2 separate regions of the Homo sapiens genome follow, and region 2 is linked to region 1. The links come from fine-mapping of genetic effects on gene expression. A gene starts in region 1. The other region holds a variant in brackets. All regions are shown on one strand. Distances are from middle to middle. Region 1 holds the start of FBN3 (fibrillin 3). Region 2 has its middle 21 kb from the start of CCL25.

Region 1 (5,364 bases):
ACCACCATGCCCAGCTAATTTTTTGTATTTTTAGTAGAGACGGGGTTTCACCATGTTAGCCAGGATGGTTTTGATCTCCTGAGCTCGTGATCCGCCCGCCTCAGCCTCCCAAAGTGCTGGGATTACAGGTGTGACCCACCGCGCCCAGCAATTTTTTATATTTTTAGTAGAGATGGGGTTTCACTGTGTTAGCCAGGATGGTCTTGATCTCCTGACCTCGTGATATGCCCAACTCGGCCTCCCAAAGCGTTGGGATTACAGGCGTGAGCCACCATGCCCAGCCTAAATGTCCCTTCTTAACAGTGTGATGTAATAAGGGTACAGTGGGGGGTGACACTGTCTGTGATACCACATCAATAACTGGCAATAACATAACAGACCAGGGTGGCACCATGGGAAGTCTGAAACTACAGCACGCGGTGTGGACAGTAGCTTGGGTTGGGGGCTGTGAACAACCAATGCCCACTATCTGCCGTTTTCGAGCACTTCAGTTGCGGTGACTTCCAACAGCTCCACATCCTGGTCTTGCCACACCCTCCGGCTTCCTTCTCCCCTCTCTTCTGGAGGGCAGGTAGGGAGACTTCTAGGACTGAGTCGCTCCCTGGCCCACAGTTCTTCCAGGAAAGCCCTCCTCCAGACTTAGCCATGGCAACAGTGGCTGTGCAGTGTCCCTGGGATGGGACAATCTCTCCCCACCTTTTGCACCTATGCTGGGCTGCTTCTAGGGCACCCGGTGCTTGTCCCCGTGCCCATGTAAGATTCATTTGTTGCAGAACAAATCTGGGTGGACCTTGGCAGAGGAGCCTGGAAAGAGGTGTCCAAGGTGGCCGGGGAAACTGGTTTGTCCACAATAGCCCCTGGGCCCACCCTCCAACAGGAACCCCACCCCCCTGTCTCTGCTGGGCCACCTCCATCCTGGGGTTCCCTCCCCAGTCCACCCTCCCCATGCCCCAGCACCCCACCTGACCCTTCTCACAGGGTCCACGGGCCCCTCCCTTGGCCAGGATGACTGGATCTTGTCCCTGAAGTCGGCGTCTGTCCCATGCTCCCCGAGCCCAGCCCTGGGGCCCTCAATGCTCCCCGGACACAGTCTAAGACCTGGAAGTGGAGCCTTGGGAGAACCTCCCCTTTCTGTGAGTCCACCGTGTCTCCCCTCAGAGGTGGGGGGGGAGCCTGCTGAGGGCTCCTCGGTGCTTCTAGCCTCTTCTTATGTTTCCTGCTTTCCTCTTGCTCCCTCCCCTTCTCCTCTCTCCTAAAGTTCCAACCTCACTCCATCCAGGCATGTTTGTTCTAAGTTCTCTCCTTCTCCAGGCCTTTGCCTGTTCTGTTTCCTCCAGCAAACTCCTATGCAACTGTCAAAACCTACTTCAAAAATCCCCTTCTGGGCCAGACTCGGTGGCTCACGCCTGTAATCTCAGCACTTTGGGAGGCCGAGGCAGGTGGATCACGATGTTAGGAGTTCGAGACCAGCCTGGCCAACATGGTGAATCCCCGTCTCTACTAAAGATACAAAAAATTTACCGGGCATGATGGCACAAGCCCGTAATCCCAGCTACTCGGAAGGCTGAAGCAGGAGAATTGCTTGAACCTGGGAGGTGGAGGTTGTAGTGAGCCAAGATCGTGCCATTGCACTCCAGCCTGGGTGACAGGGCAAGACTTTGTCTCAAAAAACAAACAAAACAAAACATAAACAAAATCCTCTCCCTCCCTGCAAATTGTGAGTTTACCCTATTGAACTCCCAAAGCTGACTTGCTGAATATACTCCCACCATAGCACTTCCGGAATGGAGACAGGGTCTCCAATTTTTGGAGATAGGGTCTTGCTCAGTTGCCCAGGCTGGAGTGCAGTGGCACAATCATAACTCACTGCAGCCTCAACCTCCTAGGCTGAAGCAGTCCTCCTGCCTCAGCCTCCTGAGTAGCTGGGACTATAGATGCATGCCACCAGGCCTGGCTAATTCTTTTTAATTTTTTTTTTTTTTTTTTTTTTAGAGATGGGGTCTCACTATGTTACCCAGGTTAGTCTCGAACTCCTGGTTTCAAGCCCACTGGGCTTACTTATTTATTAGATTCCGGAAGTACTGTGGTGGGGGGATATTCAGCACAATCAGCTTTGGGAGTTCAATAGAGTAAACTCACAATTTGCGGATAGGGAGGGAATTTTTGAACTGGACTTTGACAGATGCGTAGGAGTTTGCTGGATGGAGTAACAGCTTCAGGCCCAACGCACAGCTTCTGACAGATCCCCATGTTAAGGGTCTATTCTCAAAGGTATGAAGGTAGTGGAAAAGCCTAGAAATTTTTGTTTGGAGTACTGACAACAGATAGGGAGCCAAAATTCTTGTCTGGTCCCTTTGGTAGGTGGACAAACAGGTTCAAAGAGATTTGAAAGTTTACACCGTTTGAATTGTTAACCTCTTCATTTTGAGAACCAGATGAAAAACCTGGGCCCTTCTCCCTGGGAAATACAGCTTTGCCCAATGTTTTGTCAACATATTTAGGGGCCCCTGATCTCAGCCTAGTTAAGAATCCAGGCTCCAAGAGCCAGGTGAGTTTCCAACGTCACTCTCGCAATTCTCCTTGCTCGAGGGAGGGGGTGGCGGCTTGGGAGGCCCTGAGAGGGCCGCCCAGGTGAGTCCCGGGACTTCTCTGCCCAGGCTGTCGTCCAGGCCCTCCAAAAGTCAGAGCCCCACCTCCACCTTAGTCTCGATCCGAAAACGCGGCCCCGGCAGCCCCTACTAGGCGCCCCCAGCCCGCCCTCACATCCCTCCAGTCCATCGGAGTTTTTCACTCGGAGCCCCGGACCCTCCCCCGAGCCGCAGCCTCTCTCCCCGCCCCGGATCGGAGCCCCCCGTCCCCGCCCCGGGAGCTAAGAGGTGCAAACGCGCCCTCCTCCAACTCCTCCCGCCCCCAACTCCCCCCCGAGTGGCAGCTCTGGGCTGGGAACGCGGCGGGGTCGGCCTCTCGGCTTTGCGTTCCCGCCCCGGGTCCCCGGCGCCGCAGGAGCCCGCCCTGCAGCGCTGAGTCCCGCGCGTCCGCCTGCCGTGCCCGCCTCCACGCGCGCCGCCTCGCAGGTAGGTGAAGGCGCGGGGCCAGCGGCGGGGCGAGATCGCGGGCGCTGAAGGGTGGAGAAGGCGGGGGCGGGGGGGCCGGCAGGGGGAGGGGGAGAGGATTCCTTTGTTCGCAGCCGGGCAGCCCCGGGCCCAGCCCCCTCCCCTCTCCGCCTTCTAGTGGCGCCCGCCGCAGTGGGGAGTGGGGGCGCGGGGACCCGGCGGGAGGGGCTCGGCCGGGGCGCGGGGCCCCTGACCCCACAGGTGAGGGCGGAGCCAAGCGTGGTCGCGGCCGGGGGCCCTGCCGGGTGGAGATCGCGCCCCGCGGGCTCCGGGGGCGCCCCCTCCCCGTCGGCGAAGCTTGGTATCCCTCGCTGTTTGGCCCTCAGCCTCCACACCCCGTGCCGGGCGCGCCTTCTCTGCTCATTCATTCCACAAACTCCAGGGTGTGGCTCGCAGAAGCAGCGGTGTGTAGGGGGGACCGAGGCAAATCAGGCCAGAGACTCCCCCCACCTAATTCCCCCACCCGACCCGAGGCAGGGGGCTGGGGCGGAGGGAGTGGGGGAGGAGGGCTTGCAAGCCCCGAGGCTGCTTGGAGTCCACGGAGCCTCAGAGTGCGGACTGACCCGGACAACTGAGAAGAAAAAGAGGGCGCCCCTCTCCAGCCAGCCAACCCTCCAACGTTGACAGGGGTCTCTCCCTTCTCCGGGGCCTTTGGACAACCAGGTTGGCCCAGAGAGGGGCGTGGCCAAGACCACACAGCAGGGCTCCCCGCCCATTCTCCACCTAGGGCCGGTTCCTTTCCTCCCTGGAACCTGAATGGAACAGGAAGGCCACTTGGTCTGGCTTCTCTCCCTCAAGTATTTTGCCTCCACCCTCCAAACGGTCGTCTCCTGTCCCGGTCTTCTCCCTCCCGTCCTTCATGGCCCAGGAAAGACCCAGCCAAGGGGGGCAGGAGCGAGTTCCGTTCCTGATCTTCTTCCCCTCCTTCTTCTCTTCGTGGGCTTAAGCTCCGGCTTAGCCCCTCACTCATGGTGTGATGGCCTTAGTTTGTGCATCTGTGAAATGGGCACAGAAGCGGTCCCTTCCCTGCTGGGCACAGGGTTACTCTCTGCATTGGGAAGTTCCAGCCCCTGCCTGGGCCCCCTGCCCAGGGAGGCATCCAGCCCTGACCTGGGAGCAGTGAACAGTCAGAGGAGGCTTCCTGGAGGAGGTGTGATGTTAGAAAAGGGTCTTGCGGCTAAGGGTGCACAGCCCAGGCAAGACCGGCGTGGGATGTGGAGGCGAGGGGACACAGGGCCAGGTGGGGCCAGGCATTGCAGGAGTGGGGGTATCTGTGTCACAGAGGGACAGTGGGGTTGTTGCCTTCCACGACTTACCATCTTCCTCCTACCCTGGACGCTCTCTGGGCTCCACCGTCCCAGCTAGAACTTTGGGAATCTCCTCAATGCCCTCCACCTCCCACGACATGAGCCTCCCATTCCTCTCCTCTCTCTCCCATCTGGACAGCCCCCAGCCTTCTGACACCCTGTTTCCCCCCCGGGACCCTGCTGCCCTTCCCCACACCACCTAACATGCATTTCTGACCTTGCTCCTCCCACTCAAAGCTTTTCAAGGGCTCTTCATTGTCCTTGACGAATGAGCAAAAGCTGCATGACACTGCTATGCCCACTCCTGCAACGCCTGGCCCCACCTGGCCCCACCTGGCCCTCTCTCCCCTCCCTTCCACTTCCCACTCCCGTCTTGCCTTGGCTGTGCACCCTCAGCCCCAAGACCCTTCTCTAACATCACACCTCCTCCAGGAAGCCTCCTCTGACTGTTCACCGCTTCCCGGTTGGGGCTGGATGCCTCCTTGGGCTCCCAGAGGCCCCGGGGCTGCCCCATTTGGCAACCACCCTGCCCTCCTCGTTGTGTTGGGTCCCCCATGGCTAGGGTGGGGGGCTCATCTAGGGCTGACTCTGCTTCCTCTCCGCAGCCTCCAGGGGACACGCCATGACTCTGGAGGGTCTGTATTTGGCAAGGGGCCCCCTGGCCCGGCTCCTGCTGGCCTGGTCGGCCCTGTTGTGCATGGCAGGTGGCCAAGGCCGCTGGGACGGGGCCTTGGAGGCTGCAGGTCCTGGACGTGTGCGGAGGCGGGGCAGCCCAGGCATCTTGCAGGGGTGCGTGGTACCTGGGATGCTGGGAGACCCCTTCGGTGTGGATTGGGCTGTCCTGGGGCCAGCGGAATACCCGGGGGGATGTCCACACGGGCAGGGGCTCACCAGACCCATCTCGCTGTCCCCGAAGGCCGAATGTGTGCGGCTCCCGGTTCCAT
Region 2 (5,364 bases), 120 kb after region 1:
CTCACCAAATACTTTTTGTCATTTCTACATCTCCTTTTAAGCCAAATATTAAAACCTTTTTAATGGAAATTATTTACTATGCCACCCTCATGGGAATTGCTTTAGTCTACTATTTGCAGAAGGACTATATACTGTAGTACCCTCAGGGTGGAATATCGGACACAGAGTCTCAATTACCGTAGCATTTGGCTTAGTTATTATCCTCATACCAGGAATAACAGTTGCTAACAAACAAATAACACATGGGTCTTCCCAAACATGCGCCTCTGCCTGTCATTGGGAAAAAAATGTTGATTCTGTCTCAACCAATTAGGCCTAATAAGAAACGCTGCTGAAGGCCAGGCGCAGTGGCTCACGCCTGTAATTCCAACACTTTGGGAGGCCGAGGCAGACGGATCACGAGATCAGGAGATCAAGACCATCCTGGCTAAGACAGTGAAGCCCCGTCTCTGCTAAAAATACAAAAAATTAGCCGGGCGTGGTGGCGCGTGCCTGTAGTCCCAGCTACTTGGGAGGCTGGGGCAGGAGAATGGCATGAACCTGGGAGGTGGAGCTTGCAATGAGCTGAGATCGCGCCACTGCACACCAGCCTAGGCGACAGAGCGAGACTCCGTCTCAAAAGAAAAAAAAAAAAAAAAACGCTGCTGAAAAGCCTAGGACTAATGTTTTTACCCTTTATGGCCATTTCGTAGACAACTACCAAAACATCTACACACAATATTGCTCCTGCAGGCAATCCAAGACCAAAAAACTCTCCGTGTCTCCCCTCCACCCCACAACAGCAGGAAGTAGCCAGAAAGAACACGTCGCCCCTTGTCCTTTTACAACTATAGGGTCTGGAATGACAGAGCAGAAGCACTGTCATCTTGGACAAACCCCACCACTTTAAGTTCCAGCTCCCTCTCTAGCCTCTTACATTTCAAGGATATCACTTATCTTCTAACTACAAGCAGCCAGAAAGAGCAGGCAGTAAAACACAGATAAGACAGCTCGGGCACAGAGGGAAATAGGGGGAAAGTCTGTTGGGTAATTGCCAAACTTCACCCTCATACAATGGGCCCCAGTAAAACAGTGGGGCCTTACTTAATAAGCACATTCCTTTCCCTTCAGGTGCACTGAAACAGGGAAGCCAAAGGCAGACTCCCGGTGGGGGTTTTTGGGGGGCGGGTATGCCTGCAGCTGCAAGAAGATGTATGGGGACAGACACGCAACTCTCCCTCCCAGATAAGCACAACAAAGAGACACAGAAGCAGTCCAAGCCTCTGATAAACTCTCCCACCCTGAATCCTTAAAACTCTTAGTCTGGGCTGAGCTCGGTGGCTCATGCCTGTAATCCCAGTATTTTGGGAGACTGAGGTGGGCAGATCACGAGGTTCGAGACCAGCCTGGCCAACATGGTGAAACCCCGTCTCTACTAAAAAATACAAAAATTAGCCGGGCATGGTGGCACATGCCTGTAATCCCAGCTACTCAGGAGGCTGAGGCAGGAGAATAGCTTGAACCTGGGAGGCAGAGGTCGCAGTGAGCCGAGATCACGTCATTGCACTCCAGCCTGGGCAACAAGAGCGAAACTCTGTCTCAAAACAAAAACAAGAAACAAACAAACAACCCAAAAACAAAAAAACCTCTTAGTCTGTAAGAGAGTTTGCCTCTGACTCAACTTGCCTGGAATACTCCTCTCAGGTTTGTTTTCTCTAAAATAAACCTGTGTTGACTGGCAAGCCAACTTTTGTGTTTCTTTCCTCTTTATTTCTTACAGGCCTCCCAACATGCTGGGATTACAGGCGTGAGCCACTGCACCTGGCCTAACTGAAACTTAAAACACATTTTCCCGGCCGGGCTCAGTGGCTCACGCCTGTAATCCCAGCACTTTGGGAGGCTGAGGCGGGCAGATCACGAGATCAAGAGTCCAAGACCAGCCTGGCCAACATGGTGAAACCCCATCTCTACTTAAAATACAAAAATTAGCCAGGCATGGTGGCGCATGCCTGTAGTCCCACCTACTAGGGAGGCTGAGGCAGGAGGATGGCTTGAACCCAGGAGGTGGAGGTTGCAGTGAGCCAAGATCATGCCGCTGCACTCCAGCCTGGGCAACAGAGTGAGATTCTGTCTCAAAAAAAACAAAAACAAACAACAACAACAACAAAAAAAAAAA[AC/C]ACACAGACACATTTTCCCTTTAGCATTGCTTCTAAAATTCAAAAATGAGCTGTCCTAGGGAAAGGGAACAAGGACTGCCCTAGGACATGTTGAAGAATGTGGAAAATGTTTCATATTTAAAATGTTGATTCATTGATTGATTGAGACAGGGTCTCACTCTGTTACCCAGGGTGGAGTGCAGTGGTGTGATCATGGCTCACTGCAGTCTCAAACTCCTGGGGTCCAGTGATCCCTCTCACTTCAACCTCCCAAGTAGCTGGGATTACAGGTGTGCACCATCATGCCCAGCTAACTTTGTCATTTTTTTGTAGAGACAGGGATCTCGCTATGTTGCCCAGGCTGGTCTTGAACTCCTGAGCTAAAGCAATTCTCCTGCCTCAGCCTCCCAAAATGCTGGGATTACAGGTGTGAGTCATTGCACCTGGCAGGGAAGCATTTCAAAGTCAGCTACATCTTGACTTTGACTATTCAGAATATTTAAAAATGAATAAGTAGTAAGAAATAAAGAACAAAGGTACCATGAAACAAAGATTGGGCCCTTGGGTCTTTATAGGAATAACTTTTTCGGGGGGCAGGGATGGGGGTAGGCTCTGTCGTCCAGACTGGAGTGCAGTGGCCCGATCATAGCTCACTACAGCCTGGGAATCCCGGGCTCCTGGGCTCAAGTGATCTTCCTACCACAGCCTCCCAAAGTGCTGGGATTCCAGATATGAGCCACCAGCCTGGCCTTTTAAAACAATTATTTGGGCTGGGCATGGTGGCTCACGCCTGTAATCCCAGCACTTTGGGAGGCCAAGGCAGGCGGATTACTTGAGGTCAGGAGTTGGAGACCAGCCTGGCCAACATGGTGAGACTCTGTCTCCACTAAAAATACCAAAAAACTAGCTGGGTGTGGTAGTGCATGTCTGTAATTCCAGCTACTTGGGAGGCCGAGGCAGGAGAATCACTTGAACTCACGAGGCAGAGGTTGCAGTGAGCCAAGATCAAGCCACTGTACTCCAGCCTGGACAACAGAGAGAGAGTCCGTCTGAAAATAAATAAATTAAATAAATAAATAAATTGGAGAGAACACGAGTCACTTTGTCTGCTTCTCCACCTCCCTAACAAAGCTCTCTATGGTATAAAGCTTGAAGGAATGTGGTCCACCCAAGCCCTGACTCTGAAACCTTTTTCCATTGAGTTCTCCCATCTCCTAGGAGATGCTTGCCACGGCCAGCAGCTCTGCCGGGTTACAAAGCTCATGCCAGGAAAGGCAAATGCCAGGCCGACTGCCCGGCAGCTCTCCAGGGCTGACTCGGGGCTGCAGAGAAGAGGCTGGTATGAGTCTCTCGTGGCTGCTGAAACAAATGACCAGAAACAGAGCAGCTTAAAGCAACCCAGATTTATGATTTTACAGCACTGGAGGTCAGATGTCCTAAAATTAAGGTGTTGATGAGGCTGGTTCCTCCTGGAGGCTCCATTTTCAGCCTTTCCCAGCTTCTAGAGGTACCTACAGCTCTCATCTTGGGGCCCCTTCCTCCACCTTCACGGCCAGCAGCGCAGCCTCTTCCAGTCTCTTTCTGACTGTGACCCTCCTGCCTCCTCATTTTTTTTTTTCTGAGACAGAGTCTCACTCTATAGCCAAGGGTGGAGTGCAGTGGCTCCATCTCATCTCACTGCAACCTCTGCCCCTCGAGTTCAAGCAATTCTCCTGCCTCAGCCTCCTGAGTAGCTGGGATTACAGGCATGCTCCACCACGCCCAGCTAATTTTGATTTTTTAGTAGCAACAGGGTTTCTTCATGTTGGGCAGGCTGGTCTCGAACTCCCAACCTCAGGTGATCTGCCCGCCTCAGCCTCCCAAAGTGCTGGGATTACAGGCGTGAGCCACCAAGACCAGCATTTTTTTTTTTTTTTTTTTTTTGAGACAGGGTCTTGCTCTGTAGCCAAGGCTGGAGTGCAATGGCTCAATCTCAGCTCACTGCAACCTCTGCCCCCACTGAGTTGAAGCAATTCTCCTGCCTCAGCCTCTCAAGTAGAACTGGGACTACTGGCATGTGTCACCACGCCCGGCTAATTTTTGTATTTTTAGTAGAGTCAGGGTTTCACCTTGTTTGCCAGGCTGGTCTCAAACTCCTGGCATCAAGGGATCCATCCGCCTCGGCCTCCCAAAGTGCTGGGATTATAGGCATGAGCCACTGCACCCGGCCCCAGCTAATTTTTTTTTTTTTTTTTTTGAGACGGAGTCTTTCTCTGTCGCCAGTCTGGAGTGCAGTGGTGCGATCTCGGTTCACTGCAACTTCCACCTCCCGGGTTCAAGCAATTCTCCTCGCTCAGCCTCCAGAGTAGCTGAGATTACAGGCACGTGCCAACACGCCCAGCTAATTTTTGTATTTTTAGTAGAGACAGGGTTTCACCATCTTGGCCAGGATGGTCTCGATCTCTTGACCTTGTGATCCGCTCGCCTTGGCCTCCCAAAGTGCTGGGATTACAGGCGTGAGCCACCGCGCCCAGCCCCAGCTAATTTTTTTATTTTTTTTTGTAGAGACTGTGTCTTGCTATGTTGTCCAGGCTGGTCTCTAACTCCTAGGCTCAAGTGATCCTCCCTCCTCGGCGTCCCAAAATGTTGGGATTACAGGTGTAAGCCACCATATCTGGCCAAAGGGGCTTTATTTTACCTACCACAGCATCCGTGGGGGCCAAAATCATAAGATGGGGGGCCCACAGGACACTTCCTGAGGGAGGTGATGTGTGGGTTTAGTTCTGGAAGATTGCAGGGCTGGTGGGGGATTGTGCTATGCGGGAAGAGGATTCCAGGCTGAGAGAACAGAGTCCATAGAACAGCAGGATCCTAAATATCTACCCCAGACGCCACCTGGAAGCTCTGTTTGGGAAAGTACAGTTCTCATCTGGGGTCGATTTTTCCCCAGGGGACACCTGGCCCGTGCCTGGAGAGAGATTTGGCTGTCACCACTGGGAGGCTGGGGGGGCGGTGGGCTGCCAGAGAGCTGCTAAATAATCTAGACTGCACAGGACCGCCCCCTACCAGGAAGAATCAGCCAGCCCGCAGAGTAGCTTAGAGGGCGAGAATCCCTCTGTCCTCATCCCTCCGGACTCAGAGGGGCTTTCCACCAGGGGCAGCTGGAAGGGTTTATTGGGTGACCTTTGGCCTTTCTAACCCTGCCCCCCGCCCCCCACCCTGTCTCCCGCCTTTCTTGGGAAAAGCTGAT

What was found. PIP is the estimated chance that this variant, and not a neighbour inherited with it, causes the effect. A credible set is the group of variants that fine-mapping cannot tell apart.
Region 2: its variant is the best candidate, but not a certain one, in a credible set for the expression of FBN3 in skeletal muscle (FUSION, PIP 0.62).

What each region holds. Positions count from the first base shown.
Region 1 is chr19:8,147,159-8,152,522 of GRCh38, reverse strand. FBN3 (fibrillin 3) reads left to right here and starts at 2,931. Exons shown (of 64, transcript NM_032447.5): 1 at 2,931-3,074; 2 at 5,026-5,209; 3 at 5,337-5,364. The coding sequence starts at 5,043. RefSeq lists enhancers at 3,774-4,744, 4,745-5,364.
Region 2 is chr19:8,029,173-8,034,536 of GRCh38, reverse strand. No RefSeq gene overlaps it. Among named protein-coding and RNA genes, the nearest start is that of CCL25, 21 kb to the left of the region's middle. RefSeq lists an enhancer at 4,393-5,364. The variant AC/C (reference allele first, on the strand shown) is at 2,156.